Linked DNA regions of Homo sapiens. The protein of the gene in region 3 interacts with the protein of the main gene of each other region in a pairwise test. Each region holds a gene or a part of one and is shown on either strand. Other genes may lie near its edges.

Region 1 (4,519 bases), on a different chromosome or scaffold from region 3:
GCCCCCTGTATGGCTCTGCAGAGTGAGTCTTCAATCCGTGATGGACTAAAAGAAGTCTGAACTGCCTCAGAACCTTACCTCTTCCTTGGGCTTTGAGGCCCCTCAAGGTTCACATCTACTCCAACAATGGCTCTTCATAGCTTAGTCCAGTTTGAATACATTCATATGGGGCCCGGTGCAGTGGCTCACGCCTGTAATCCCCAGCACTTTGGGAGGCTGAGGTGGGCGGATCACCTGAGGTTGGGAGTTCAAGACCAGTCTGGCCAACGTGGTGAAATCCCATCTCTACCAAAAACACAAAAATTAGCCAGGCGTGGTGGTGGGCACCTGTAACCTCAGCTACTCGGGAGGCTGAGGCAGGAGAATCACTTGCACCCAGCAGCCGGAGGTTGCAGTGAGCCGAGATCGCGCCACTGCACTCCAGCCCGGGCAACAAGAGCAAAACTCTGTCTCAAAAAAATAAAATAAAATAGGCCAGGCACAGTGGCTCACGCCTATAATCCCAGCAGTTTGGGAGGCTGAGGCAGGCAGATCACAAGGAGTTTGAGACCAGCCTAGCTAATATGGTGAAACCCTGTCTCTACTAAAAATACAAAAATTAGCCAGGTGTGGTGCCTGTAGTCCCAGCTACTAGGGAAGCTGAGGCAGGAGAATTACTTGAACCCGGGAGGCGAAGGTTGCAGTGAGCCACGATCGCACCACTGCACTCCAGCCTGGGCAACAGAGCAAGACTCCATCTCAAAAAATAATAAGAAAAATAAATTTAAAAAAAATAAAAATAAAAAAATAGGCCAGGTGCAGTGGCTCATGCCTGTAATCCTAGCACGCTGGAAGGCCGAGTCGGGCATATCACGAGGTCAGGAGTTCAAGACCAGCCTGGCCAACATGGTGAAACCCCATCTCTACTAAAAATACAAAAATTAGCCAGGCGGGGTACCATGCGCCTGTAGTCCCAGCTACTCGGGAGGCTGAGGCAGAAGAATTGCTTGAACTCAGGAGGCGGAGGTTCATCTCAAAAAAAAAAAAAAAAAAAAAGAACAATGTCTTCTATGCTTCTTTGAAATAACTCCATATGTTTATAAGACAGACATGACTCCTTAAAATGGAAATTGATTTTTTTTCCATGTGAATATATTCATTTTATTTCATTTATTTTTTTTTTTTTGAGACAGAGTCTCACTCTGTCACCCAGGCTGGAATGCAGTGGCACAATCTCGGCTCACTGCAAGCTCTGTCTCCCGGGTTCACGCCAGTCTCCTGCCTCAGCCTCCCAAGTAGCTGGGACCACAGGCGCCCGCCACCACATCCAGCTAATTTTTTTGTATTTTTTAGTAGAGAGAAAGTTTCACCGTGCTAGCCAGGATGCTCTCGATCTCCTGACCTCATGATCTGCCCGCCTCGGCCTCCCAAAGTGGTGGGATTACAGGCGTGAGCCACCGTGCCCGACCAGAATTGACGTATTTCTATTCTTTTGCCTGGGTTTTGTTTCTTTGTATTTTTATTTTTTTGAGACGAAGTCTCGTTTTCTCACCCAGGATGGAGTGCAATGGCATCATCTCGGCTCAATGCAACCTCCGTTTCCCAGGTTCAAGTGGTTCTCCTGCCTCAAGCCTCCCTAGTAGCTTGAACTACAGGCGCACGCCACCCAGCCCAGCTAATTTTTTTGTATTTTTAGTAGAATCGGGGTTTCACCATATTGGCCAGGCTGTTCTCGAACTCCTGACCTCAGGTGAGGAGTTCATTTCCACGGCCCCCCTCGACCTCCCAAAGTGCTGGGATTACATGCCTGAGCCACTGCACCAGGCTTTTGTCTGTTTTTTTTTTTTTTTTTTTTTTAATGAGACAAGGTCTTGCTCCACTACCCAGGATAAAATGCAGTGGTGCATTCATAGATCCCTGCAGCCTCACACTCCTGGGCTCAAACAATCCTCCTGCCTCTGCCTCCCGAGTAGCTGGGACTACAGGTCCATGCTACCACATCCAGCTATTTTTATTTTTCTGTAGAAATGGGGTCTTGCCATCTTGCCCAGGCTGGTCTCCAACTCCGGGGCTCAAGCAATCCTCCCACCTTGGCCTCCCAAACTGCTGGGATTACAGGCATGAGGCACTGTGTTCCACCCATATTTCGATTTTTAAGGATACTAGCCAACTGCAGGGTTTGTGATAGAAGTTATCCCATTAGGCCATTTATATGCCCCATGCCAGAGGAGTCCCTGGTTTAGGGGCATTTTCATCACGGTTCTATTTTCTTTTTTTCTTTTCTTTTTTTTTTTTTAAATGGAGTCTCGCTCTGTCCCCCAGCTTGGAGTGCAATGGTGCCCTCTCAGTTCACTGCAACCTCCGCCTACAGGTTCAAGCGATTCTCCTGCCTCATCTTCCCGAGTAGTTGGGATTACAGGCGCCCATCACCATGCCCTGCTAATTTTTGTATTTTTAGTAGAGACGGGATTTCACCATGTTGGCCAGGCTGGTCTGGAACTCCTGACCTTAGGTGATCCGCCCGCATTGGCCTCCTAAAGTAATGGGATTACAGGCATGAGCCACTGCACCCGGCCATGGTTCTATTTTCAATCAGGAAACTAAAATTTGTATTTTTCCCAAATATTGACGGATTGTAAACTGGCACAACCACTTGCATTATCTAGTGAAGCTGAAAATATCCATTCCACGAACCTGAGCAATTTTACCCATCAGTATATATGAAGGAACTTTTTTTTAAACAAGGGTACTTAATACAAGAATGTTCACAGCAGCATTGTTAAGAGCCAAAAGCTGGAAGCAACCCAGATATCTATCAATAGTGGAATAGATAAATACCTTATGGTGTATTCATACAACAGAATACTACATAAAAAATGGAAATGAACAGCTGCACACAATGTGAACAAATTTCAGAAACATTATGCTAAGACAACATAATACAGCATGACTCCATTTATACAAAACTCATAAGGAAACAAATCTAAACTAGGTTAAGGGCTACGGAGATGGTAAATGTAAAAAGAAGAAGAATGTTATCACAGAATAACAGCTGTCTGTACGGCTTGAGAAGCTGTGATCAGGAAGGGACCCACGAAGGGTTCAGAGATACTGGCATCGTTTTATTTCTTGAAAAAGTAGTACTTTCGCCAGCATTTACTTTATAATTTGTCATTAAATTGTACAGAGATCGCCTAAATTTACATGGATGGATAAATATTTCACAAATTTTAAAACAAAGAAAAACATGGGCGGGCGCAGTGGCTCACGCCTGTAATCTCAGCACTTTGGGAGGCCAAGGTAGGCAGACCACGAGGTCAGGAGTTCAAGACCAGCCTGACCAACATAGTGAAACTCCGTCTCTACTACAAATACAAAAAATTAGCCAGACATCAGCCGGGCACAGTGGCTCACGCCTGTAATCCCAGCACTGTGGGAGGCCGAGGCGGGCGGATCACGAGGTCAGGAGATCAAGACCATGCTGGCTAACACGGTGAAACCCCGTCTCTACTAAAACTACAAAAAATTAGCCGGGCATGGTGGCAGGCACCTGCAGTCCCAGCTACTCGGGAGGCTGAGGCAGGAGAATGGCGTGAACCCAGAAGGTGGAGCTTGCAGTGAGCCGAGATCGTGCCACTGCACTCCAGCCTGGGCAGCAGAGCGAGACTACGTCTCAAAAAAAAAAAAAAAAAAAATTAGCCCAGCGTGGTGGCGGGCACCTGTAATTCCAGCTACTCCAGAGGCTGAGGCAGGAGAATTGCTTGAACCCGGAAGGTGGAGGTTGCAGTGAGCCGAAATCGTGCTACTGCACTCCAGCCTGGGCGACAAGAGTGAAACTCCATCTCAAAAAAAAAAAAAAAAGAGAAAAGAGAAAAAGAGAAAAATATTAGCCTTCTGACACAGCCACCATTTCTACCTACAGTTTTGCCCTGGCCTGAAGAGTGAGACCAAAGGAGCACTCCTTCCCTCTTTCAGCAAAGGAAGAAATTAATCTACCATTTCTTCATGCAGCCACATCAATTTAATAACAGAAATCACAATCTAATGTAATAACTAGGAAAAAATACAAAGGAAGCATTTAAGTGAAGTCTGAAGAGGACTTAAAACATCTGGAACAAAATGCAGTACAACAGAATAACAGAAAAGAACAGGTAATAGGCCAGGCGCGGTGGCTCACGCCTGTAATCCCAGCACTTTGGGAGGCCAAGGTGGGAGGATCCCGAGGTCAGGAGATTGAGACCATCCTGGCTAACAGAGTAAAACCCCGTTTCTACTAAAAAATACAAAAAATGAGACAGGCATGGTGGCGGGAGCCTGCAGTCCCAGCTACTCCGGAGGCTGAGGCAGGAGAATGGCGTGAACCCAGGAGGCAGAGGTTGCAGTGAGCCAAGATTGCACCACAGCACTCCAGCCCGGGCAACAGAGCGAGACTCCGTCTCAAAAAATAATAATAAAAATAAAAAGAAAAGAACAGGTATTCATGTAACACCTAATTCTAAGGCTAATTCAGAAATCAGAGACCCTTACAGATCAAGAGTGG
Region 2 (4,519 bases), on a different chromosome or scaffold from region 3:
TGCTTTAGGATTTTGGTAGTATCTCCTCAGCAGTTCTTTTCATTTCTGGTGCTCTTTAGTTCCCTTTTTATTCATATAAAGAAATTAAGATTCAGAGAAGTCAATTAACTTTCTCACAGCTACATGCAAGTGAGTGGCAGAGCTTAATCTTGAGCCTAGATCTGCTGACCTCTGTGGAGGACTCTGTTAAGCTACCTGGATTTAGATTAAGCTCAGAATTCACTTCTTTGGCTGTTGGACTATTGTAGCTCCATAGCAAATGGGGCTTTCCAGGAGTTTTATTCACATTCTTTTGTTCAGCATGCATGAAACAGAATACCTCATCTGAACTGAAGGCTATGCCATTTTAGAAAAATACAAGTATCCAGCTGGGCACGGTGGCTTGTGCCTGTAATCCCAGCACTTTGGGAGGCCAAGGCGGGTAGATCACTTGAGGCCAGGAGTTGGAGACCAGCCTGGCCAACATGGCGAAACCCCGTCTCTACTAAAAATACGAACATTAGCTGGGCTTGGTGGCGCATGCCTGTAATCCCAGCTACTCAGGAGGCTGAGGTAGGAGAATCGCTTGAACCCAGGAGGTGGAGGCTGCAGTGAGCCGAGATTGTGCTATTGCACTCCAGCCTGGGCAACAGAGCAAGACTCTGTCTTAAAAAACAAACAGGTATCCATCTCACACCTGTCAGAATGGCTGTTATTAAAAAGTCAAAAAATAACAGATGCTGGTGAGGTTGTAGAGAAAAAGGAATACTTATACACTATAGGTGGGAGTGTAAATTAGCTCAACCGTTGTGGAAGACAATGTGGTAATTCCTCAAAGACCTAAAGACAGAACTATCATTCGACCCAGCAATCCCATTACTGGGTATGTACCCAAAAGAATATAAATTGTTCTGTTATAAAGACACATGTATGCATATGTTCATTGCAGCACTGTTCACAGTAGCAAAGACATGGAATCAACCTAATGCCCATCAGTGATAAACTGGATAAAGAAAATGTGGGAATACTATGCAGCTATAAAAAAGAACAAGATCATGTCTTTTGCAGGGACATGGATGGAGCTGGGAGCCATTATCCTTAGCAAACTAACGCAGGAAGAGAAAACCAAATACTACATATTTTCACTTATAAGTGGGAGCTAAATTATGAGAACGTGGACACATAGAGGGGAACAACAGACACTGGGGCCTTTTGGAGGGTGGAGGGTGGAAGGAGGGAGAGGATCAGGAGCATAACTAAGGGGTACTAAGCTTAATACCTGGGTGGTGAAATAATCTGCACAATAAACCCCCATGACACAGTTTTACCTGCAGAGCAAACCTGCACTTGTATCCCTGGACTTAAAAGTTTAAAATAAAAAAGAAAAACACAGATATCTTTGTCCAGTAACACTTTGGTGTCCTCATCAGCGTCTCTGCTTTTCCTGTTAAACTCATTGACACACATGAGCCTATTGTTCTTCCCTGGAAAGATAACCAAGCTAAGAACAATCTGTTCTCTTTTTCACCGTCTTGTGTCTCAGATTCGAATTGCTGCAGAAGGAATCAATGGGACAGTTGGTGGAAGCAAATTGGCTACCAGACTTTATGTGGAAGTCATGCTTTCCTTCCCATTGTTTAAGGATGACCTGTGTAAAGATGATTTTAAGGTAAGAGAAAATGAAAATTAAATGGATCTAGAGCCATCTGCTTCTGCCTCTGTGCATGTTATTGAAGAGGAGTTCAAAGTAGAGAAATAAGCAGTGCCAAATAAATACCCTTTCCCCTTTATTTTTTGGGGCTTGGGGAGTTTTTTTGTTTTGTTTTTTGACAGGGTCTTGCTCTGTCACCCAGGCTGGAGTGCAGTGGCGTGATCATGGCTCACTGCAGCCTCAACCTCCCTGGGCTCAGGTGATCCTCCCAGGTAGCTAGGACCATAGGCGTGCATCACCATGTCTGGCTAATTTTTTTGTAGAGACGGGGTCTCACTATGTTGCCCAGGCTGGTATGGAACTCTTGGGTTCAAGCAGTCCTCCCACGTCAGCCTCCTATAGTGCTGAGATATGGACGTGAGATACCGCACCTGCCCCCTTTCCCCTTTAAATGTGCTTTTCTCTTTAGGTTACGAGACAGTACAATAGAAGGAGTATGCTCGTCCCCATTCTTTCACTGAGTCACCATATGATTTTGGACCAGCTAGTGCTCTAGACCTCAGTATCCCTTCTTATAAAATAAGAATGTTACAGCTCATGCAATCTGGGACTCCAAATCTTGGACATATTAGCTCACTTGAGAGACCACCAGCCTGGTCAGCAGATCACTGTGTTTTTAGTAAATCTGGAATTGTAAGATTAACACTTCATACCACATGGGGGAATAAAGTTGTTGCTCTCACAGGTGGGCTGCTTTGTTTGAGTGACTTTATACCTTGTCATAATAAGTGATAAGGTGATGGGAAATGCCTTGCTAGCGTTCATGCTGGCAATGATAGGAAAAGAATGAAAACCGGGTATAGTCACATGTTAGAATTGCTCAGCGGTGTTGCAGTTTTATAATTAAATGCTTACACCTAAAGAAACACTTTTTCAGCTTAACATTCCTGCACATGGCAGGTATGCAGTAAGTATTTATCAATGTTGAATTATCTGGAACATTCTGGGCCCTAACTAGAGGTTTTTTAAGACTTCAGCTATTGTTATTACAAAACAGACCATCATTCTTATATTGGCACTTGTCTTATACCTGGAGATGGGACAGCAAGACTGTATTCTGTTTTGTTTCTCATTGGCTAGACCAGCAAAGGAGGAGCTCACTGTTTTCCAGAATTGCGTGTTGGTGTATTTGAAGAAATCGTGCCCATGGGGATCAGCCCCAAAAAGATCTCCTACAAGAAGCCTGGTATGCTTGCTTTTAGAAGATTGTGCTTTAATTCACAGGGACAAAACTTAATAGACAAATAAGAAAGCTAGGCACTGTGATCAGCAGCAGTCATGAGTCCTCTCTAAAGCAGCTGTGGGGTGGCTAACACTTGGCTGCATCCAGTGCTTATACTGTTTCTCTGTGGTGCTGTGGGGTTGAAGACTCACCTCTTCGAGTGACCTATCTTATTCCTCTTGGTGATGGTTTATCAATTAGTTGTTTGCTCTTTCCAAAGACAGCAAGCAGTTTGGGAAGAGTGTAATTATTACTTGTAAACAGTTCATTAGCAGAATAGAGCAAATAGGCCTTTTGCTACAGGAAACAAGTTGCTTTCAACACCACAGCAGTTTTCACTGTGCTCTAGAATGTTCTTTCCCCATCTTCTCCATGGTAAATGGTTGAAAGACATTTGTTTGGCAGGTTTTTGGGGGTTTTATTGTAGTTTTTACTATGAAAAATTTTAAACATTAAAAAAGTAGAGAAAATAATATAGTGAAGTTCTATGTACCTATCATGCAGCTTTAGCAGTTAACTGATTAATGGCCAGCTCTCACCTATACCCCATCCCTTCTCCCATCTTGGATTATTTTGAAAGCAACCCCAATGTCAGGCCATTTCATTTGTAAATATTTTTAGTAGGTATGTCTAAAAGATAAAAATTTGTTTTAAAAGATGCAAAACGATATCACATCTTAAAACATTTTAACTGATTCCTTAATAAATTATCAAATATCTAGTTGGTTTAGTCACTCAATTCCCGGTTGTCTCATACTTTTTAAGCTTCATTTCTATTAGGATTTAAATAAGGTTCATTCACTGTGATTCATCAGTATGTCTCTTTAAGTGTCTTTCAACCTATAGATTTGTTTCCATCTTTTTTTCCCCCCTTGCAGTTTATTTTTGAAGGAACTGGATCATTTGACCTTTAGAGTTTCCCATAATCTGGACAATAATAATTGTATTCCCAAGATATATTTCTCTGTCCTCTTTATTTCCTATAAGTTGATCATTAGATTTAGAGTAGTGCTAATAGAAGTATAATGTGAGCTACACAATTTTACATTTTCTAGTAGCCATGTCTTTAAAAGTAAAAAATAGATGAGATTAATTTAAATAATATGGTTTTCTTAATGCAGTATATCAAAAATATTATTTCAACATGTAATCAATATAAAAAATTATTAGTTTACTTTTTTTCATGCTAAGTCCTTGAGATTCAGTATGTATGTCACCCCTATTATAGCACAAGTGCTTGTCAGCCACATGTGGCTAGTAGCTACTGTATTAACAACCAGGACTAGAGACTTGATCAGATTCCAATTTGATTTCTTTTTCTCCCGCCACCAAGACTACATAAGCACTGTTGTCTTCTTTGATCAGGAAGCACAAAGGTCTGGTTGACTCCATGGTGTTCATTTTGTAATATGTAAAGTTTTGAAAGAAGTCTAAGAGTGAAGCCAGGGGGAAACGGGATTAGGATACAGGCATCTGGGAAAGAGACTCATGCATGGGGAGATGAGGGCCAGAAAGAGCTGTTGTCTGCTTACTGTTCCCATCTTAGCAGGAGGCAGTATGACTACAAACAGCTTTTCCTGGGCACTGCAGGACATTGCAGGCAGAGA
Region 3 (4,519 bases):
AGGAAGGGATAGACAGAAGAAATTGGGGGAACAGGGGAAGGAGAAGGAGGGAGGAAGAAAGAGAAATTCAAGCCACCAGACCGCGATGGAATTTTACTAAAAGCAGTGGACCCTATTTGCCCACATCTCTGTTATGGGCATTGTTAACACTCATTCCAGGAAGGGAGAAAGGCAAAACATTGTTACAAAAGTAAAATCGCCTCAACGGCACCCCAGCCAGCCCTCTCCAAATTCAGCCGTCTATGCAGCCATGTATTTGGTGCTGCCACAGCAAACTGCTGCTTCAGTCTGTCTCCAACCGTGGGTTTCTCAAAGTGGGTAATATTACTCCTTTTGTCCTCTCTTCAGCTAAACTGGTTCCAAGTCCCTATGCGTCCCAAAGCTCCTCAGCTCTATTCCTGAAAAATTTCCTTAATTGAAAGAAAAGGCACAAGGTCCCTTTATCCGATTCCACCTACCCGCCCCCCATCCACAACTCTTCAATAGGAAGAGGACACAAGTTTCCCAGCCAGAGAAATCCACTAAATACCCACCATTCCCGTCCAAAACAAGAAGCTCAAAGCAGATTTCATAACAAGGTAATAGAAAGAACAGTTAATTCCTGTTAACTAATTTTCCATCCCTGCAGGACTGCAAGCCCCATCCTCCTTCCCCCGGCTCCTCCTCTCCTCCCAGCACTGGGGTCTCTGGCTTCAGTCTACTAATGTGGATGCTAAGTAATCACTAATTGACTGTAACGCAGAGTGAAAGGGCATTAAAATCCGAGGCAACTGGGAAGTTAGGACAATGCAAATATTTAGGACTTGAGGCTGTCTACACCTGGCCAGCGGGGTCATCGGGTCACTGTTCAAAATACAAGATGCCCCTGTGGCCCAAGTTTTTGTCTACTCAATGGAAAGAAATTGCTTTGCTGGTTTCCCGGCTCTCCCACCCCCACCCCACCTCTAGGAGCACTCGATTTTTAAAAATGGACCCTGGTATTTGCAGCCCTGTAGGCGGTCTCCGAGACGTCTTGAGGGCTCGCGTTACCCTAATCCTCACAGCATTTAGTCTACATTCTTGCCTTAACCCCCCTTTGTTTTTGGCGTGTCAAGAGGCAGGTGCAGATACACCTAGCTTCGGTCGTCCTTCCTTCAACTTCCTGCTGCTCCCGGTTTTATCCCTTCACGGCTTTTCTAGTAATTCATTTCCTTTTTCATTAGTTTCACCCTTCGGATCTCTTTAAAAGACACGTTTGCCCCACTGTCTAAAAATAATAAGGTCCCATCCTGCACAAAGCAAACCCCCTGAGACACAGGGATGCGCTCGGTCCCAGTCCAGCCGCGGCCTCTCGTGCGGTGAGTGCACCCGGTGGCCCGCGCCACCTCGCCTTCCCCGGCGGCGCACAGTGCCGCCAACTCCCTTCCCTGGTCGATTTTAATTGACATCCTCAGCCGCCTAGGTAGAGACTCTGTCTCTCTGGAGCCTGACACGTTTCCAGCGCTCGTCAAGGTCCACTAAGCTGCGGAACCGAGTGGGGAGCCGAGGCTCGAACACCCGCAGAACGCGCGGGCCGGGCACACCCGCCGGCGGCCTCCCCGCTCCGAAGAGGAGGAGCCCCTTCGAAAATGGGAGCATCGCTTTCCCAGGGTTAAACAGTCACATTAGACTCGAGCCGCCAGGGTTGGGGTTTAATTTTGTCATTCCAAATGCTTGGAACGAAATGGGTCTGGAGAGGAAGAGAGGTTTTCACCCGGCCTCCTCCTAATGGGCGCGCCGTCCGCACTCGCGCCTGCCGCGCCTATCCTTGCTGGAAAAGTCCCTGCCACCACTCTAAAGGGCAGCAAAGGGGTCCCAGGCCTGGCTAATTCCAGCTCAGTCGGACCTCTGGGCTACCTGAGATAATAAGCTCCGAAAACGGGCGCGAACCTCTGGGCGGATGGACTGCAAGGGCCAAGGCGCAGGAACCTCTATTGCAGCGCACCGGGGAGAGAGAGGCGGTCCCTCCCTTGTCCCCTTCTGGGCTACGACCTTTACCCACCGCTGCGGGACGCAGTAAGCGCAAAGCCGGCTACCCGCGAAGGGCCGGCCGCCCTGTCCACATCTACCTCCACCGGCGAGTCCCCCAAAACCCAGAGCACGCCCGGGATTCCCGGGCGAGTGCCCAGGATCGTGAGCCGCCCATGGGTGCGCAGCAAACGCTCATTTAAAGAATTCATCGTCTGTTCCCCGGGCCACCCAGGCCGGCATCTGCCCGCGGGGCGGAGGAGCCCTGCCCCGGTCGTAGCGAGGTCATGTGGGTCGCGCTCCCAGACCCTAGGACGCCACTCCTGCTCAGCCCTGCGTAGCCCCGCCTAGCTCTGGTTTTCCACGAGCCCGGACCTCGGCCAAGAGAGGAAATAAACTTGAGTTAGGTCCTGCTTCTTCTCAGTCCCGACTTTACGACTTCCCGGGACACTGCGGACTGCTCAATGCAGACCTTTGCCCCTCACCTGCTGCACCTGCGTGCTCCGTGTCCGGCTTTAACAGTTAATTCCGCATGCGGAGCGCACTGGGACAGCGGCTTTCCAAGCTTCCCTCCGTGCTAACGGCCCTCTCAGATAACAAGGCCCTGGAAAGGAGGAGGCCGGAGCCCTCTCGCCCCTTGGGAGTCCTCAGCCATCCGCTGTCCCAAGCGGGGCGCTGCCGCGCTTACCCGGGTTTCTCCAAACTCCCTTCTTTGTGGTACACAGCTCTGGCCAGGGGCTGGAACGGGATCCTAGCAGTTAGGACATCGGAACCCCCAACCCATCAGGCCCGAATCGGCCGGCGGGGACAGCTGACCTCATCTGTAAAAATTGTCTCCTGCCTGAGAATATATTCTCGCGACGCAGGGAGGGAGGTCTATGGTGCCTACAGCTGCTATATCGGAATGTTCGGAATATGATAGAATCTCAATCTATTATATATATATATATATATATATATATATATATATATATATATATATATATAATTTGTGTGTGTTGTGTGTGTCTGTTTCTCGCACTAGGAGACAAGGCAGGAATGGAAAGAAGAGCGAACAGCACCAGCGTTTGAGTGAACTCCTGTCTTGGACAGTGAATCCATCTCACCCCCTTAAGAAATGTCCTGCAAGAAGGACAGTCAACAACCCCGGGGACTCGGATCTGCAACTCGACCTGCGCTGGGACATTACCCCACGCACCCCGGAGGAGCCCCAGGAGAGGAAGTCCCAGGGAAAACCTTTACCCCGACCCTACCAAACACAAAATAAAATACCTTTTTCCTACAGCTTCGGGGTTCGCCAGAGCTTGCCGGAAGCATTTTAGGAGACAAGGAGGGGGACAGAGACCCCCAGGCCTGCATTCCAATTACCACCCCCAGCGGAGACCCCGCGGGGCTCCTCCTTCTCCCGTGCGGGCTGCCCTCTCTCCCGCCAGCGATCCGGGCGGCGGGCTTCCGTCGTCCTTTCCCTCGGTGCCTGGGGAGACTACATGGCAGATGGGTCAAAACCGAGGCGGATAAAACGCCCCACCTTCCTATATGCCTCGCTCTTTTCCGCGTCTCCTCAGAGGGCATGGCCGGCCAGCAGGGCCCCGACGCGTGGAGGGACTGCTGAGGTCCGCGGGGAGAGTTTTGGAGGCGGCTCGGAAGGCTCTCGCCGTACCCGTACCCAACACGGCCCCGGGTCAGGCGCTGTGAGGATTCGGATCTCGACGTCCCTACAGCCCGGAGGGAGGTGGCGGGGACGAGCTGTCGGTGCGGGCCGTAGGGACAGCTGTAGGGCTGTCGGAGCGACGAGGCCCGCACCGGGGGCCGCGCGACCAAGGCGCGGTAAAAAACCAGGAGGGCTACGGCGCGAACTGCTAAGTCCGCACGGGAGCCTGCGGGGGCGGGAGGCCGGGACAGAGTGGCGAGGAAGAGGCCAAGTCTGGAGCAAGACCAGAGATGAGAGAGAAATTATTACATCATTTGGAAACGTTTTCCTAAAGGGTATGCCCCTCACCCATCCCCAAATAAGCAAAGGAATAGTCCAGCTGCCGCCGAAATAAGCTGGATTTAAATCACTTCTTCTAAAATGCCCCTAGAGGGGAGGGCACTAGAGGCACCGAGCTTGGGGACACCTAGACCTGCGTCCCCAAGTGCTCCATTCGTGGTGACTCCATGTGATGAAGAGGCAAACATGTCTGTGTTGAGAGGGAAACCCTTCTAGTTGGCGACTGGAGGGACCCCTGTGGGAGAGCGTTTCTTTTGTCTCCCCTCCTCTAGGGTTTAAGAGCCTACTGTCCCGGAAGGCCCAAGGGTGTGCCCCACAACCCCTCGAGCTTCCCCCCTTCTTAGGCCACTGGGCCCAGTCCCAAGAAAACTAATAGTTGTGTATATGTGGGTGATGGGGACCTATCCCGCGGTCCCAGCACCAACAGCCTAACAGCCAGAGGCCAGATGTGCTGCAAGGGAGGCTACAATCCATTCACATTCCAAGAGGAAATAAAAGCTGGATCCAGAAGTCTTCAGGGAGTGGGCCCCTCAATTTTGGCCG
Region 4 (3,362 bases), on a different chromosome or scaffold from region 3:
GTCCAGTGGGAGACCCATAGTACTGCCACTTCCTCCATCCCTCACCCTGCTTGAATTCACTCTGGTACTTCCACCCAACATACCACATATTGTTGTCTGTTGCCTGTCTGCCTCCCACCTCTTTGCCCCTACAGACTATAGGCCACAGGACAGCAGAGGTTTCTATCTCAGTCCCTGCTGCAGCCCTACAGTGCAGAACGGGGCCTGGCACGTAAGGAGGCGCTCAATAGCTCATGGAATCAATCTAGGTGCTGGCACCACTCCAGCCTACCCTAACCTTCCGTACCCTCCAACCAGCATGCCAATTCCTCTGCCCAGGGCCCACCCCCACTGCTACTTCCTCATTCAGTACCACCTCCTCAGGGGGCCTGCCCAGACCACCCAACCTACAGCAGCCCCCCAACTGGTCCCTTTCTAGTCCTGTATTCTCACTATTTATATGAGACCTGGTGGGTGGGACTAGATACTCACAGGCTGGGCAGGGGGCATCTGTCCTGGCATAAGCTGCTGCGGGGGCATGGCCCCTGGTGGGATCTGGCCAGGTGCAAGGCCTGGCGGGGGGATCATACCAGGGGGCGGCATGTAGGGCGGCTGGCCCGGCATGTGGTGCATAATGCGGGGCGCCTGAGTCATCGGCGGCATGCCCTGTGGAGAGAGGGAGGAGAGTGCGTGGTTACAGCAGCCCCAGGAGGCAGAGAAGAGGCCATGAAAGGAAACCTAGCGGGTGAGAGATGTAAGGAAAAACACCCAGAAAGAGGCGCAAAAGGCACCCAAAGAGGGCCCGACAGAGCAAAACAAACCCAGGGTCTAGTGGGACATTAAATCAGAAAGAGTTAAATGCTATTTGTGAGGCTGAGGTAGGAGGATCACTTGAGCACAGGAGGTCAAGACTGCATGCAGTGAGCTCTGATTGTGCCACAGCACTCCAGCCTGGGAGGCAGAGCAAGACCCTGTCTCTTAAACAAAATCAAAGGAGAGGAAGAGATGGAAAGGGACAGTCAGGGCAGGTGCAGAAAGAAATGTGTGGTAGGCCGGGCACGATGGCTCACGCCTATAATCCTAACACTTTGGGAGGCCGAGGCAGGCGGATCGCCTGAGGTTAGGAGTTTGAGACCAGCCTGGGCAACATGGTGAAACCCCGCCCCTACCAAAAATACAAATATTAGCCAGGCGTGGTGGTGGGCACCTGTAATCCCGGCTACTAGAGTGGCTGAGGCAGGAGAATCACTTGAACCCGGCAACAGAAGGTTGGAGTGAGCCGAGATCACACCACTGCACTCCAGCCTGGGCAACAGAGTAAGTCTCTGTCTCAAAAAACAAAAACAAAAACAAAGGAGGGCAGTGATGGAAAGGGACACTCAGGGCAGGTGCAGAACAAAACGCGTGGCAGCAAGGGGAAGAGGGAAGACAACAGATGGCAGGCAGCACACTCAGGGGCTGGAATCACAATCTGAAGTCCAAAGTGGACAGAAAACTAGGTGCAGGGAAGAGGAGAGAGGTTAACAGGAGCCCACAGTAATCCAGACACCATCACCAACTTGGAGAAAGTGTGAGTGGCACCGAATAGAGCATGACCCAGTCAGAGCCATGAGACTCATGAAAGCCAGAGAGACACGGAGGCTCAGAGACCTAAGGAGTGGGCCTGGTTCATCCATCTTTTCTTTTGTACTCGGTGCTTTTTGTATCCTGTTTGGAAAACAGGATGTTTCCACTTTTCATGCCCTCACCAAGGTCATTTAGACATTTTCCTGTTTTCTTCTAGAAACTTTATTGTGTGAGGGCCGGGTGCAGTGGCTCACGCTTGTAATCCCAGCACTTCGGGAGGGTGAGGAGGGCGGATCACTTGAGGTCAGGAGTTCGAGACCAGCCTGGCCAACATGGTGAAACCCCATCTCTACTAAAAATACAAAAATTAGCTGGGTGTGGTGGCACATGCCTGTAGTCCCAGATCCTCGGGAGGCAGGGGCAGGAGACTCGCTTGAACCCAGGAAGCGCAGGTTGCAGAGAGCTGAGATCACACCACTGCACTCCAGCCTGGACTACAGAGCGAGGCTCTGTCTCAAAAAAAAAAAAAAAAAAAAAAAAAAGAAAAAGAAAAAGAAAAGAAAAGAGAAAAGAAACTATATTTTGTGAGTTGTCACATTTGGATCTGCAATTCACTTCAAGTTATATTTTGCATATAGTATGAGGTAGGGCTAATTTTTTCCCCTTGCAGATACCCAACTGCCCCGCATCATGAACTAGGGGAAAAAAAGTCCTTTCCTCAGTGAAGTGCAGTGGTACCTCGATCACACATCAAGTAATTATACAAGTGTAGCTGTACCTAGACTCTTCATCCTGTCCCCTTGGTCTGTCTTCCTACCCTTCTGCCAACTGTATATCATCCTGGTTGGTTGCTGCAGGTTTTTTTTTTTTTTTTGCACATGGACGTGGTGGCATGTGCCTGTGATCCAGCTACTTGGGAGGCTGAGGCAGAAGATCACTTGAACTTGAGAGGCAGAGGTTGCAGTGAGCCGAGATTGCACGACTGCATTCCAGCCTGGGGAGACAGATTGACTGAGACTCCCTCCCGAAAAAAAACAAAAGAAAACAAAACAAAACAAAAAAGAGACAAGGTCTCACTCTGTTACCCAGGCTGGAGTGCAGTGACAAAACCACTGTTCACTGCAGCCTTGACCTCCAGTTCTCAAGCGATCCTCCCAGCTCAGCCTCCTGAGCAGCTGGGACTACAGGAATGAGTCACCACGCCCAGTTTTCTATTTTATTTTTTGTAGAGATGAGGTCTTGCTATTTTATAGAGGCTGGTCTTGAACTCCTGACCTAAAGCAATCCTCCTATCTTGGCCTCCCAAAGTGCTGGGATTACAGGCATGAGCCATTGGGCCTGGCCTGGTTGCTGGAGCTTCCCCTGGTCATGCAGGTCCTGGTGCTTTATTCTCCTCGCCTGGCTTGGCCTTGTCTTTCCACACATTTAGAAAGAGCCAATCAGTGTCCAGTGTTTACCGAAATTCCTGGTGGGATTTTGATTGCAATCACGTTGAATCTTCAATTAATTTGGATGGAACTGACCTCTTGACAATACTGAGTCTTCCTATCCATTGCTGAGTCTCTGATTTCTCCCAGCTACATTCTGTGATTTCAGTGTAGTCGTTCTGCAAACCTTTTGTTGGATTTACCCCTCAGTGCTACTTTTCAATGTGAAGTCTACTGGTCTGTTACTGGCATATAAAAATAAAACTGGGGGCCAGCCATGGTGGCTCATGCATGTAATCCTAGCACTTTGGGAGGCTGAGACAGTGAGTTTGAGACTAGCCTGGGTGATATGGCTAAGCCCCGTCTCTACAAAAAATGCAAAAGTTAGCT
Region 5 (4,519 bases), on a different chromosome or scaffold from region 3:
ACTGGTCTCCAACTCCTGGCCTCAATTAATCTTCCCTCCTCAGCCTCCCAAAGAACTTGGATTAAAGGTGTAAGCCACGGCACTCAGCTGCATATTTTCTTCTTCCATAGAAGATTCATCTTTAATTATGGCAAGTAAGCTAGAGTAGAGGTGCCGGCAATCTGAGGTCTTCTTAATCTACGTAGGGAATGAGATTATTTGAAGCTGGCCTTTAGTCCCCATGAGTACTGTCGATTCTGGATTCACCTTTAGTCCTAGGGTATACTGGGTGAGGGGAGGGGAGTTTCAATCCCAAACCTAAATTGCGGATCCTAAATTGCAATTCTTGTAATCTCATCTATCCCACCCATGAGTCCATTAGAAATACCATTCAGAGGCCAGGCGCAGTGGCTCAAGCCTGTAATCCCAGCACTTTGGGAGGCCGAGGCAGACAGATCACCTGAGGTCAGGAGGTCGAGACCAGCCTGACCAACATGGAGAAAGCCCGTTTCTACTAAAAATACAAAAATTAGCCGGGCGTGGTGGCAGGCGCCTATAATCCTAGCTAATCCAGAGACTGAGGCAGGAGAATCGCTTGAACCCGGGAGGCAGAGGTTGCAATGAGCCAAGATTGCGCCATTGCGCTCCAGCCTGGGCAACAACAGTGAATGAAACTCTGTCTCAAAAAAAAAAAGAAAGAAAGAAAGAAAGAAATACCATTCAGCCTCATTGCTGCTGCTGCTTTTGAGATTGACAGATGTCTCTCAGAGAAGCGAGCTCAAATGCTGGGCTCACATCACTGGCTTTCCTATTTTTTAGAACTTGACCCTGCAATTTCTTCATTTCCCTGATAATGCTCTAATCCCCTCACACATAAGCTTTCTATATCTTACATTAAATATTTAATATTTTCTCTAGCTTTTCTGATTATTCTCAGTTGGAAGTTTGGTCCAAACAATCTACCTCTTGCATATAAAATTGTCCCCCCAACTTTTTTTTTTTTTTAAGATGGAGTTTCGCTCTCGTTGCCCAGGCTGGAGTGCAGTGGCGCAATCTCAGCTCACTGCAACCTCCGCCTCCCAGGTTCAAGTGATTCTCCTGTCTCAGCCTCCTGAGTGGCTGGGATTACAGGCGTTTGCCACCATGCCCAGCTACTTTTTTGTATTTTTAGTAGAGATGGGGTTTCACCATGTTAGCCAGGCTGGTCTCAAACTCCTGACCTCAGGTGATCCAGCCGCCTTGGCCTCCCAAAATGCTGGGATTACAGGCGTGAGCCACCGCGCACGGCCGCCCCGCTCCCCCTAACCCTTTTATTTTTTTAATTTGAGACAGAGTTTCGCTCTTTTGCCCAGGCTGGAGTGAAGTGGCACAGTCTTGGCTCACTGCAACCTCCGCCCCTCGGGTTCAAGCGATTCTCCTGCCTCAGCCTCCGGAGTAGCCGGGATTATAGGCGCCCACCACCATGCCTGGCTAATTTTTTTATTTTGAGTAGAGTCAGGGCTTCGCCTGTTAGCCAGGCTGGTCTCGAACTCCTGACCTCAGGTGATCCACCCGCCTCGGCCTCCCAAAGTGCTAGGATTACAGGTGTGAGCCACTGTGCCGACCTATGTCCCTCTTTTTATTCTGAATATTATCTGTGCATTTTCTTAGTACCATGGATGTTTTTCATTTTTATAAGTGTTTTCAAAGACAAAACTTTGTCCCTATTCAGTATTTCTGATGGTTTTTAAAATTTCACTAATTTCTACCTTTTTTTTTTTTTTACTATATTTCCTTCTGCTCTCTTTAGATTGATTTTCCTATTATTTGCAGATAACTTTGCTATTCTCTTTCATGAGATGAATACTTAGCTCATTAATTTTCCTTATCAGTTTATTAAAGACTATAATTTTCCTACTAAGTACAGCTTTACTTGTATCCCACAAGTTTTGAGACATATGATTTCATTATCATTTAGTTCTGAACATTTCTAATTTCCATTATAATTTCCCCTTTGACCCATGAATTTATCAATTCTTTTTGAAAATGAATGAGACTTTTCTAGTTATCTTTTTTTTTTTTTTTCTTTGAGACAGAGTCTCATTCTGTCACCCAGGCTAGAATGCAGTGGCAACCTCAAACTCTGAAGCTCAAGCAGTCCTCCTGCCTCACCTTCCTGGGTAGCTAGGACCACAGGCACATGCCACCACACCAGGCTAATTTTTAAATTTTTGTAGACAGTCTTTCTTCCTTGCCCAGGCTGGTCTTGAACTCCTGCCAGATCCTCCCACCTCAGTTTTCCAAAGTGCTGGGATTACAAGTGTGACCCACTGTGCCAGGTCTCTGGTTATCTTTTTAATTATACTTGTCTCTTGACTTCCAAAAATATAAAATATATAATATATATTATATAAATATATATTTTATGTATGTATTTTTATATATTTTTATATATAAATTTTATATATAAATATAAATATATAAATATATATTTATATTTTATATTATATAATATATTTATATTTTATATTATATATTTTTATATTATATTATATAAATATATTATATTTTTATATTATATTATATAAATATATTTTATATTATATATTATGTATTATATATTTTATATATTACATATATTATATATTTATATAATATATTATATAAATATATGTTTTATATATTTATATATTATATAAATATATATTTTATATTATATATAATATACTTTTACATAATATAATATATATATTTTTCTTGAGACAGGGTCTCATTCTGTCGCCCAGGCTGTCGCCCAGGCTGGAGTGCAGTGGCGCGATTTTGGCTCACTGCAACCTCTGCTTCCGGGGTTCAAGTGATCCTCCCACCTCAGCCTCCTGAGTAGCTAGGACTATAGGCATGAGCCCCACAACTGGCTAATTTTTGTATTTTTTGTAAGGATGGTCTGGAACTCCCAGGCTCAAGTGATCCACCTGCCTCAGCCTCCCAAAGTGTTGGGATCACAGGTATGAACCACCATGCCAGCTAGTTATCTTTTTATTTACTTCTAGTGATCACATTGTGGTGAGAAACTGTATTCGGTATGATACCAATCTTTTGAAACTTGTGGTCTCATATGTGAAAATTTTATAACTGTTCCTTGTGTGTTTGAAAAATATAAGGATGAAGCGGCTGTTACATACAGTTAAGTGTGATATTCAAAGAGGTTAAAAATTCAGGCCAGGCACAGTGGTTCACACTTATAATCCCAGCTCTTTGGGAGGCTGAGGTGGGTGGATCACCTGAGGTCAGGAGTTCAAGACCAGCCTGACTAACATGGTGAAACCTCATCTCTACTAAAAATACAAAATTAGCCGAGCGTGGTGGTGCATGCCTGTAATCCCGGCTACTTGGGAGGCTGAGGCAGGAGAATTGCTTGAACCTGGGAGCTGGAGGTTGCATTCAGGCAAGATCGCGCCATTGCAGTCCAGCCTGGACAACAAGAGTGAAACTCTGTCTCAAAAAAAAAAAAAAAAAAAAAGAAAAGAAAAGAAAATTCAGTGGTAATATAAATTAACATAAATAAAATTTAAAAACATTTTCTAAATAAATTAACCTATATAGATTATAAAAATGCTCACCAGGTGATAACCATTGTAGCTCAAATTGTTCATTAAATCATTCTAGTAATTTTCAATCATTTATTAATTTTTGGAAATTGTAGCCATAATCTTTTATTTGACACAGATGCCCTTGTCTGAACCATGAATTGACATAGGAAACTAGATAAAGCCCTTCTAAGAATGTCCACATTAAATTTATAGTCATTAAATAACTTGTAGTCATGATACGTTAAAAAAAATCACACTTTTTAAAATTTTTTGTAGAGACAAGGTCTCCCTATGTTGCCCCAGCTGGTCTTGAACTCGAGCTCAAGCAATCCTCCACCTTCAGCCTCCCAAAGTGCTAGGATTATAGGCATGAGCTGCCATACCTGGCCTAAAAAAAAGAAATCACTCTTAACATCAACAGAATTGTTCATGGGAGCTGAATCCTCTTTTTGGCTTTTGCTGAAGTAACAGTAAGTATATTTTAAAATGTTTTTAGCCCTTCAAATGCTTGCTGTTAGTTTCATATAGTCAATATTTGTTTAAATATATTAATAACTAAGTCACAAAAATAATTTATTGATATACTTAATTATATTAAACCTAATCCCTCAGTCCAGGTGAGAGGTAACGTAACACAGCAGTTAACAGCATACACCAAGGTACAGAACCTTCATTTAATAAACTTTCTGCTTCTTAATTCCCCCAACTAAATGTGTCTGGTAGACAGAAAAAGATGTATTTTGGTAGTCATTTTCATTTATAACATGAGTGTCATTAATGCCTACTGTAGGCAGGTATTCATTGGGTGTTGGCACACTTATCCTATCTAAATAATGGGGAAATTAAACAAGAATGATAAAACTAAGGATGTGCATCCCAGAAGTTATTCATCCATAAACCATCCCCACAGGCCTCGATCATCTGCTGTAGATTCTATCCTGCCATGGGAATGTATACTGTGCCAAGAGAAT
Region 6 (4,361 bases), on a different chromosome or scaffold from region 3:
AAGAGGGTGAGCAGGTGCTGAGGGAATCTGATCACTGTGATCTGCTGCCACAGCAAATGGTGGCATTTAGGCACACAGTTCCAAAGGTTCTATACCAGTCACGTACTGATAAGCCAGCCCTCTCTCTAAAAGAAAGCTTTGATTGGTAGCATTTGTGGACTTTCATGGGACATGTACTGTCGCCATGGCTGATTCAAGACACCACATGAAATCACTGAATGAGGACTTAGAAGAGATGTGCATCAGAAGCTCTCAGAAGCTGGTGAGCCACTCCACTTACCACTGGAACAGTAACTGGGGACGGTCCCCAGAAAGCCACAGGAAGACTTCTGCCAATCTTGTGGGCAGCCTGGGGAAGCCTCAGCTCTCACTCTGAAGATTTTGAATAAGTAAAATGATTTATGTTTCTCTGATTTATGGCAGCCATCCCATCACTTTGGATGGTTATCTAGGCTGTCCGGTGGAAGGTTCCCTCAGAATAGCCCTTGGCTCCTCTTAGGAACACACCCCATTGCCTTGCCTCAGGCTAGGACAGCCTCTTGCATAGGCAAGGCAGCTCTATAGGGCTCATGCAATTAGTTCTGCAGAAAGCAATTCAGGTAGAACCATCCCGAGAGGAAGGATGAGAGTTGTCGGTGTCACAGCTATTCCTCTGTCCCTCACTTGGATTCAGGCAGTACCTTCTCCCCAAGTTCCAGGAAATCATGAACACCAAGGAATCTGCCTTTGCTGGACTGGGCCTCAGCCAGAGATCAGGCCCAGCTAGAAGGTAGCAGGCATCCCTGAAGAGATGGTGGAATGGGGGTGGAAAACCAGTGTGAGACTGGATGTGCCCACTTCTAGCTGTGGAGCGACTCTGCTCCTCAGCTGGGGCATGGGAAACAGGTCTTGCAGGGCAGAGCAGGAACAGTTCTGGAGGAAAGGGGTCTTGTCCTGGGGCAGAACCCCTTGAGAAGCTTCACATTTATACATCTTTGAGTCTTTCTCCCAAATTGTTAACATGTTGCTGAGCAGAGAATCAGCAGTCAAAAACACATTGAAAGAGAAATGAGACTTTTATTAGCTCCAAGAGCATTTTTCAATACTAAGGCAAAAAGTAAAAAGAAGGACAAGGAAAACCAAGGCACAAAGAAGGGACCTAGGCGCACCCCAGAACTCACCACGGACACACAGCAGAGGGCTTCTCTTCATATCAAGGGTATGGGTAAACAAGAAAGGCTGCTGTTTCACTGAGACAGGACGAACCACCAAGTCCAAATGAGAAGACAAGCAGAGACGTAGTGTCAGACCAGGAGGGTTAGAACTTGCTAGTGTAGAGGGCAATAATCCACTTGGGCACACGGAGGAAGGAGGGCAGGTAGGAGGCCAGCCAGCCCAGGCCGGACACGTGTGAGAGAACAGAGCTCAAAGACAAATAGTCTTGGACGGGGCGGCCTGGGAACAACAGGAGGAGGAGGATTAGATTCTCATTTCCCACTCCTCAGATACCCTCACCTTGGCTGGAGAGACCGAGGGAGGAGTGGGCAGGGAACAGAGGGAACAGCAGTCAAGGCTGACTGCTGTGCCAGGGTCCTCACCGTCCACATCCCGAAGGCCATAGCGTCGAGCAAGGTCACAGGATGGCAGCACCTTACCACTCAGGCTCAGGATATTGGGATCTGCGGGCACACAGACAGGTGGAGATGGCAGGCAGGGGAGTATGCAGAGTGACAAGGTTTGGGCCCAGTTGGACAGGGCACTGCTGAGAGCCCTGGAGCTCAGGATCCCTGGAGAGCTCTTTCTCTTGGGCCTTGGACTTTTTCCACACTTCCCAGGAGCCTGCTCCTAAGGCTCTCAGACCTCAAACTGGGAATGCTGACCCCTTGGGCCTCAAAAAGCAGAGAAAAGAATGACATGTTCCTCAACCAACTCCCGAGCCAGATCTGGGCACTGGATGCTACCGCACTACACATCCTCCATGCCCTTTCTTATTACCAGCTGCCCCCAAACTTCACCTGTTGCCAAAGCCACCACACATTTGCCACTCAATTCTGTGGTTTCCGCAGATGAGAAGGCTGATTTGAACTGAAACACAGGGGCAGAGAAGTGAAGGGTTAATTTCCAAGAGCACTGCCCAGGTCTCCTCCCCATTTCAACTTCTGTTCCAGGAGAAAAAGACCAAAGACCAAAGAGGCCAAAGACCTCAAGCAGGGCCTGTAGGACCCAAAGTATTGGCAGGTGCCAGAGCCACTCCTCCCCACATCCAGGTGAGCCCTGTGCCCTGGCACCAGGATCTGCTGTCTTTGCTAAGTGGAAGGATCTGGTAGTGCCAAATAGTGTTTGGACCTTCTAAGCTAGCTGGTGTGGGGGTCAAGTGCATGGTCTTTGGAGCTAGACAGCCTTTCCACTTAGGACATATGTGACCTTCAACAAGTTTCTAAACCTCTCTGGGTTTCAGTTTTGCCATCTGTAGAATGGAGCTGGTATCTCCCTTACAGGATTAAAGGAAATAATGTGTGTCCCATGCTCAGCCCTGCACCTGCCACAGTAAGCACCTGGTGAGTGGGAGTATCTGATCTTGTTATTGAGGATGCAGAGGCCGACTCCCCTGTTCTCTGCTTCCTTCGCCCTCCCCTTGCCAACCTGCTTCAACACAGGATCCTGCAGGACCTCCTCCTTTGCCATATGCTCCTTCAGCAGTTCTGTCTGCACAATCCCCGGCCACAGAGACACACAGCTGACCCCATGGCGCCGCAGCTCGTGGGCACAGTCAGCAGCCAGCTTGTCACACTGTGGAGAGGCGGAAGGCAGGGTAAGAGCCACCTAGCCATGTCACTTTCCTGCCCTGCCCTCTCTGCTTCTACTGTGAATGCTCCACCCACCCTGTCCTTCCCAGGAGCCCCAAGGTCTCAGCTGCCCACGCTCCCCAGTGTGATGCCTACTCTAGCCAACCAAGAGGAGCACAAGCAAAGGAACTGTCCATGGATGAGGCAGAGGAGGAGCTGAGAGGAGCCAGCCTTACCATTCTGACCACTGGGGATTGTACCTCCTGAGCTATAGGTAACATCACTGTCTTTTACCTCCTCAGCTCCTATGCCACTGGGTCCTCACCGCAGCTTTGCCCACACCATAGGGGACATTGAACATATACTGCAGGCTTCCTGGGGAGGAGATGACCACGATGAGCCCCTGGCCAGCTGGTACCATCAGCCGTGCCCCATACACTGAGCAAAAGTAGTGGCCTCTAGAAGGTGGGGCAAGGGAAGAAGGAATGAACCGTGTTAGTGCTGGCCTGGGTGCCACAGCCTCTGGCGGCTTCCCCTGCCTTCTGGTGGTTGTTGTCCACTAGGAAGGCTACACAGGGTGGGTTAGCGACCTGAGGAATTAGGGGCTTGAGGCCATATTCTGAGAGGAAAACTGGTCAAAATAACCACTGACAGATGAGAAACAGCAATCTTTGGAAGAAGAAATGGAACGCAAGAGCCCTGTCACAATAACAATTACAAACAAAATTGTTCAGGGGGAGAAAACTTAAGAAATGTATAGTGTCTACATAGAAAAACTATAAAACCATGACAATAAGTACAGACAAAATCTTTCAAAGCTAAGAACTGACATGTAAATCATCATTTCTATGTAAATCAATCCATAGATTCAGTCAAATTGGATTATAGCTCAATAAGACCTTTTGGAGGAATTGATAAAATAATCTAAAGCTCAATGAGAAGAATAAACGTGAGAACAGCCAGAAAAGCTGGGCACGGTGGCTCACGCCTGCAATCCCAGCACTTTGGGAGGCGAGGGGGGCAGATCACTTGAGCTCAGGAGTTTGAGACCAGCCTGGCCAACGTGGTGAAAGCCCATCTGTACTAAAAATACAAAAATTAGCCAGGTGTGGTGGTACGTGCCTATAGTCCCAGCTACTCGGGAGCCTGAGGCAGGAGGATCTCTTGAGCCCAGGAGGCGGAGGTTGCAGTAAGCTGAGATTGTGCCACTGCACTCTAGCCTGGCTGACAGAGTGAGATTGTCTCAAAAATAAATAAATAAATAAAAAGAAAGAGAACAGCCAGGAAAATTCCGAAAAAAGGACTAAAAAGACTAATGTCTTGTGGGTGAGGGGGATTGCTTTCCCTACCCCTGCTGTCACCCATATTAAAATGCACAGGGGCCAGGCATGGTGGCTTATGCCTGTAATCCCAGCATTTTGGGAGGCTGAGATGGGAGAATTGCTTGAGGTCAGGAGTTTGAGACCAGCCTGGCCAACACAGCAAGACCCCGTCTCTAAAAAATAAAATAAAATAAATTAAAATGTACAAGACATAATAGTTAAAAGAATGCAATACAGGTGTTAACAGTAGACTGATAAGTCAATGAAACAAAAC
Region 7 (4,519 bases), on a different chromosome or scaffold from region 3:
CTTTGCTTCAAGGAGCTCATGCTCTTTTGCAGGCTTTGAACAAGGGATTGCAGATTTAAGGAATGTAGCAGATGGAAGGGTAGGATTATTTGGGCGCAGACGACAAAGTAACTTTACTGGGCCAGGTTGTCGGTGCATTCAGTGAAGGGACAACTACTTTGAGACCTGAAAGATGAGGAGGAAGTAACTAAGCAAAACGGGGATCTGAGGGGAGAGGAGTGGAAGCAGCATGTCTGGGAAGGACACTGAGAGAGGTAGTAACAAGTGGCTACCCACAAGATGGACAAGTCGGTGCGGCAGGACGGGATTTTTATCCTAAGGCTAATCAAAAGCCATTGAATAGTTGTATGCAGAAGGGTGTCATAATACTTACATCTTATAAAGACCACTTTTTAAAAGGGCATAGTGGTCCTAATGGGAGGTGATGTGGGCAACAGAGTAGACTCGTTAGACTAATGAGGACACAGAATCCAGCATCACACTGTGCCAGATGCACATCCAGGTTCAGTTCTAGAAAACTTACAATAAGCTATTCTGTGAAAACACAGTCAGTGGGTTCTGTATCTGCAGATATGCAAGGTTGACTGTACTGGGTCATTTTATATCAGAGACTTGAATACCCACAGACTTTGGTATCTGTGGGGATCCTGTAACCAATTCTTCTTGGATACTGAGGGATGACTGTACAAAACCACAGTGAAATGAAAAACTCTGGGAGTTAAGTATTATCTTAATACAGAAAGGCAACAGAGCAGTAGAAAGTGCAAGTCTTTGGGGTCATGTCCTAATTCTGTTATTTTTCCAGCTCTATGCCTGTGGGCAAGTTAAATGTTCTGAGCCTCAGTCTTCTCATCTACAAAGTAGGGATAATATATCTATTTTCAGAGTTGCAATGATTGAGCCAAATAAAGTATGCAAACCGCCTGGTACGTTGCCAGACATGTAAGAATTAAAAAATAAAAACTCTTCATTAACACTGCTTCACAGAGACACTGTTTTATCACACCTTTCCCATCTGTAATTATATGTTTTGGGAAACAAAGTAACCTAGGCTGTATTTATCTAGGTTATAACATGGTCCAACAGTACTGCCTGAATTGTGAGTTACATTATATATTTTATTTCACCATGGTAGTTTACAGGTTAGACTTTTTATTTATTTATTTTTTGAGACAGAGTCTCACTCTGTCCTGTCGCCCAGGCTGGAGTGCAGTGGTGTGATCCTGGCTCACTGCAAGCTCCGCCTCCCAGGTTCATGCCATTCTCCTGCCTCAGCCTCCGGAGTAGCTGGGACTACAGGCGTCTGCCACCACGCCCGGCTAATTTTTTGTATTTTTAGTAGAGACAGGGTTTCACCGGGTTAGCCAGGATGGCCTCGATCTCCTGACCTCGTGATCTACCTGCCTCAGCCTCCCAAAGTGCTGGGATTACAGGCGTTGAGCCAAGGTGCCCAGCCTTTATTTTTTAAATCCATTAAAAATATCGATCTTCAAAACCCAATCTTTTTTTTTGGAGACAGAGTCTCACTCTGTCTCCCAGGCTGGAGTGCAACGGCGCGATCTCAGCTCACTGCAACCTCCGCCTCCCGGGTTCAAGTGATTCTCCTGCCTCAGCCTCCCAAGTAGCTGGGATTACAGGTGCCTGCCACCGTGCCTGTCTAATTTTTGTATTTTTAGTAGAGACAGGGTTTCGCCATGTTGGCCAGGTTGGTCTCAAACTCCTGACCTCAGGTGATCCACCTGCCTCAGCCTCCTAAAGTGCTAGGATTACTGACATGAGCCACCATGCCCGGCCAAAACCCCCAAGTTTTAGAAATAATAATACATTCTCACCTCTTCAAGGGAAGATTCCAAATTCATTCCAAAAGCAACTCCCATTAGTCCAAAGAGCGAAAGAGAGAAGGTTCCCATGGTCAGCTGTAGATTCAACCTCATCATCACGTTTCGGTGGCTGGAGAGGAGAACACCTATTCAGATTAGAAGGGCCCACTAACTATATACAGCACATTCATCAAATCTATACAGACCACATGGATGAAACCTACACAACAAAAAAAATAATAATAATGTAGTATAGATGATAATGATGGCGTAATTCCTCACAAAATATTTCCTTAAAAACTTTCTTATAATTATTTTATTAAAAAAACTTAGTTTTATATAATGCTTTCTTACCTGTCCAGATTAATGAAAATAATACTTTGTGAATCATCAATCAGCACCCTAAGCTCACGAGCTGCATTGGAGAGATCGTCAGCCAATCGGTAGTAGTTTTCCAACAGCAACTCCATCTCTTCTGCATGGTCAATCCCAGCACTGCTCTTTTCACTTCAATTAAAAGAGAAAATAATTAACATACTCCCAACATGTGTATCATATACTTAGTGACAAAAACTTCCTAAATTAGTATATAGCATTCAGCTACCAGTGGAAAAGCTAGCCTTTGTCTTGTCTTGTCTTTTTTTTTTTTTGAGATGGAGTTTCACTCTGCTCCCAGGCTGGAGTGTAGTGGCGCGATCTCGGCTCACTGCAACCTCTGCCTCCCAGGTTCAAGCTGTTCTCCTGCTTCAGCCTCCCCAGTAGCTGGGACTACAGGTGCCCGCCACCACGCCCAGCTAATTTTTGTATTTTTAGTAGAGATGGGGTTTCACCATATTGGACAGGCTGGTCTCGAACTCCTGACCTTGTGATCTGCCTGCCTCGGCTTCCCAAAGTGCTGGGATTACAGGCATGAGCCACAGCGCCTGGCTGCCTTTGTCTTTTCTATTGTTGTGGCCAATCTGTGAGTACCTATGTCAACTGATCCAAAACACTTTACAGATGAGTTGAGGACAGAGGTTCCATCCTTATGTAGACCAGTTGGTGTCACTGTATTACATGGCCCCAATCCAAGAGATTTTTATGCAGATACATGCTGCCAGTTACAGGAAAATCCAGATATGTGAATGCAGATGAATTAGTGCAAAGCCAATACCACTATCAGGTAAAACAAAATCCACAACTAAAAATGTCAAGACCATTTCCTTTTGAGGTGTGTACATAATGTGATTTCATATAAAGAAAATGTTTTTGAATGATATCAGTAATAACTTTGCTCCCCTACCCTACCAAGAAGGGTAAGGGGGAATGAAGTACTCTGAAGAGGTACCTGTATCATAAAGCATATTAGAGACAGATTGACAGATTGGCCTAAGCAAAGCAAACAGTTTCTGCTACCATACCTATCGGCTATCTACCAAATGTTATATAGCCCCCTTTATCTTATTATTTCCTTATCAGGATATAAATAACCAATTTTTCAAAGTGCTGTAAGAAAATCTGTACAGACTGTGGAAACTAAACTCATTACAAAGGTGTATTAATTTCTGATACTGCTCTAGAAAGACAATAACAAAATATTTGGGTATTTAAAAGTAAACATTTAGCTGGAGTGTGCACAAGAAGCATAAACAATTTCTAAATTCATAAAAGATAAAAGGTTTATAAGATTAACATTTTCATTAGACTGAACTTACATAATCCATGTTAATGTGTTACTCGTGTATTTACCCCATCTTTTCCCTCCCCCATGTAAATTTCTCTCCCACTCTGCTTCCTAGGTAAGTTATTTTGGTAGATGTATATGCCAATCTGGTGGTCAGTCCCTTGAATATAAAGGTAACTGTGTGTTTATATTCACCACATGTCAGCAGTGTTGGGTATGCAGTATGCATACTCATAGAATTACATTGAATTAGATACGATACTGCACAGGAAAAAAGGGAAACTGGGGATGAAAAATCTCTATATTCTGTAGTCCAGAAAAATGTTACATTCTGTATGAAAAATCACCTTGAAGTGGAAAAGGCAAAAGATTTACTCTAAGGAAATAAATAACAAAGTATAATTATATACTTACAAGACTTGTGGGTCACTCCATTTTGATACACAGAGCTCTTCTAGCAACTCTTCCTCATCCAAGATCTCCAAAATTGACTCTTTGAAAATTTTAATATCTGTTTCTAACTCTGATAGACTATAAGAAATAGATACACAAAAATGATCAATAGAATAAACTTATAAGAACATTTCATAATAGTGTTTTTAGAGTATCTTATCAAATATATTATCTTATACATTCATGCTAAACAATGACTTATTTAAAAAAAAAAAAAAAGTTGAGTATTTACCAGGCAAATTAAGAATCAATTTGGCCAGGCATGGTGTCACGCCTGTAATCCTAGCACTTTAGGAGGCCAAGGCAGGAGGATTGCTTGAGCTCAGGAGTTTGAGACCCTCCTGGACAACAGTGAGATCTTGTCTCTACAAAAAAATTTAGAAAATTAGCTGGGCATGGTGGCATGTGCCTGCAGTCCCAGCTACTTGGGTGGTGGAGGTGGGAGGATTGCTGAAGGTTAAGGCTGCAGTGAGCTGAGACTGCACCACTGCACTCCAGCCTGGGCAACGGAGTGAAACCCCGTCTCAAAAACACCCACAAAAAACCCAAACCAAGGCTGCAGTGAGCTGAGACTGCACCACTG

The links.
Region 1: the proteins of LHX4 (region 3) and QRICH1 interact in binary tests that used the Homo sapiens proteins (3 or more experiments, as listed by UniProt).
Region 2: the proteins of LHX4 (region 3) and TSTD2 interact in binary tests that used the Homo sapiens proteins (3 or more experiments, as listed by UniProt).
Region 4: the proteins of LHX4 (region 3) and SNRPA interact in binary tests that used the Homo sapiens proteins (3 or more experiments, as listed by UniProt).
Region 5: the proteins of LHX4 (region 3) and DCAF10 interact in binary tests that used the Homo sapiens proteins (3 or more experiments, as listed by UniProt).
Region 6: the proteins of LHX4 (region 3) and DHRS1 interact in binary tests that used the Homo sapiens proteins (3 or more experiments, as listed by UniProt).
Region 7: the proteins of LHX4 (region 3) and MRS2 interact in binary tests that used the Homo sapiens proteins (3 or more experiments, as listed by UniProt).

What each region holds. Positions count from the first base shown.
Region 1 is NC_000003.12:49,086,805-49,091,323, forward strand, and holds part of QRICH1 (transcriptional regulator QRICH1), read right to left. Parts: intron 1-4,519. UniProt on the Homo sapiens protein: Transcriptional regulator that acts as a mediator of the integrated stress response (ISR) through transcriptional control of protein homeostasis under conditions of ER stress.
Region 2 is NC_000009.12:97,608,703-97,613,221, reverse strand, and holds part of TSTD2 (thiosulfate sulfurtransferase/rhodanese-like domain-containing protein 2), read left to right. Parts: intron 1-1,522; coding exon 1,523-1,648; intron 1,649-2,770; coding exon 2,771-2,876; intron 2,877-4,519.
Region 3 is NC_000001.11:180,232,624-180,237,142, reverse strand, and holds part of LHX4 (LIM/homeobox protein Lhx4), read right to left. Parts: intron 1-4,519. UniProt on the Homo sapiens protein: May play a critical role in the development of respiratory control mechanisms and in the normal growth and maturation of the lung. Binds preferentially to methylated DNA.
Region 4 is NC_000019.10:40,760,184-40,763,545, reverse strand, and holds part of SNRPA (U1 small nuclear ribonucleoprotein A), read right to left. Parts: intron 646-3,362; coding exon 472-645; intron 1-471. UniProt on the Homo sapiens protein: Component of the spliceosomal U1 snRNP, which is essential for recognition of the pre-mRNA 5' splice-site and the subsequent assembly of the spliceosome. U1 snRNP is the first snRNP to interact with pre-mRNA.
Region 5 is NC_000009.12:37,806,618-37,811,136, reverse strand, and holds part of DCAF10 (DDB1- and CUL4-associated factor 10), read right to left. Parts: intron 1-4,519. UniProt on the Homo sapiens protein: May function as a substrate receptor for CUL4-DDB1 E3 ubiquitin-protein ligase complex.
Region 6 is NC_000014.9:24,289,562-24,293,922, forward strand, and holds the end of DHRS1 (dehydrogenase/reductase SDR family member 1), read right to left. Parts: intron 3,224-4,361; coding exon 3,091-3,223; intron 3,040-3,090; exon of another isoform or gene 2,770-3,039; coding exon 2,623-2,769; exon of another isoform or gene 2,478-2,622; intron 2,065-2,477; coding exon 1,995-2,064; intron 1,659-1,994; coding exon 1,578-1,658; intron 1,435-1,577; coding exon 1,298-1,434; 3' UTR 1,037-1,297; downstream 1-1,036. UniProt on the Homo sapiens protein: NADPH-dependent oxidoreductase which catalyzes the reduction of steroids (estrone, androstene-3,17-dione and cortisone) as well as prostaglandin E1, isatin and xenobiotics in vitro. May have a role in steroid and/or xenobiotic metabolism.
Region 7 is NC_000006.12:24,415,892-24,420,410, reverse strand, and holds part of MRS2 (magnesium transporter MRS2 homolog, mitochondrial isoform b precursor), read right to left. Parts: intron 4,015-4,519; coding exon 3,898-4,014; intron 2,328-3,897; coding exon 2,175-2,327; intron 1,951-2,174; coding exon 1,833-1,950; intron 1-1,832. UniProt on the Homo sapiens protein: Magnesium transporter that mediates the influx of magnesium into the mitochondrial matrix and regulates magnesium metabolism. Also permeable to calcium, sodium and potassium ions.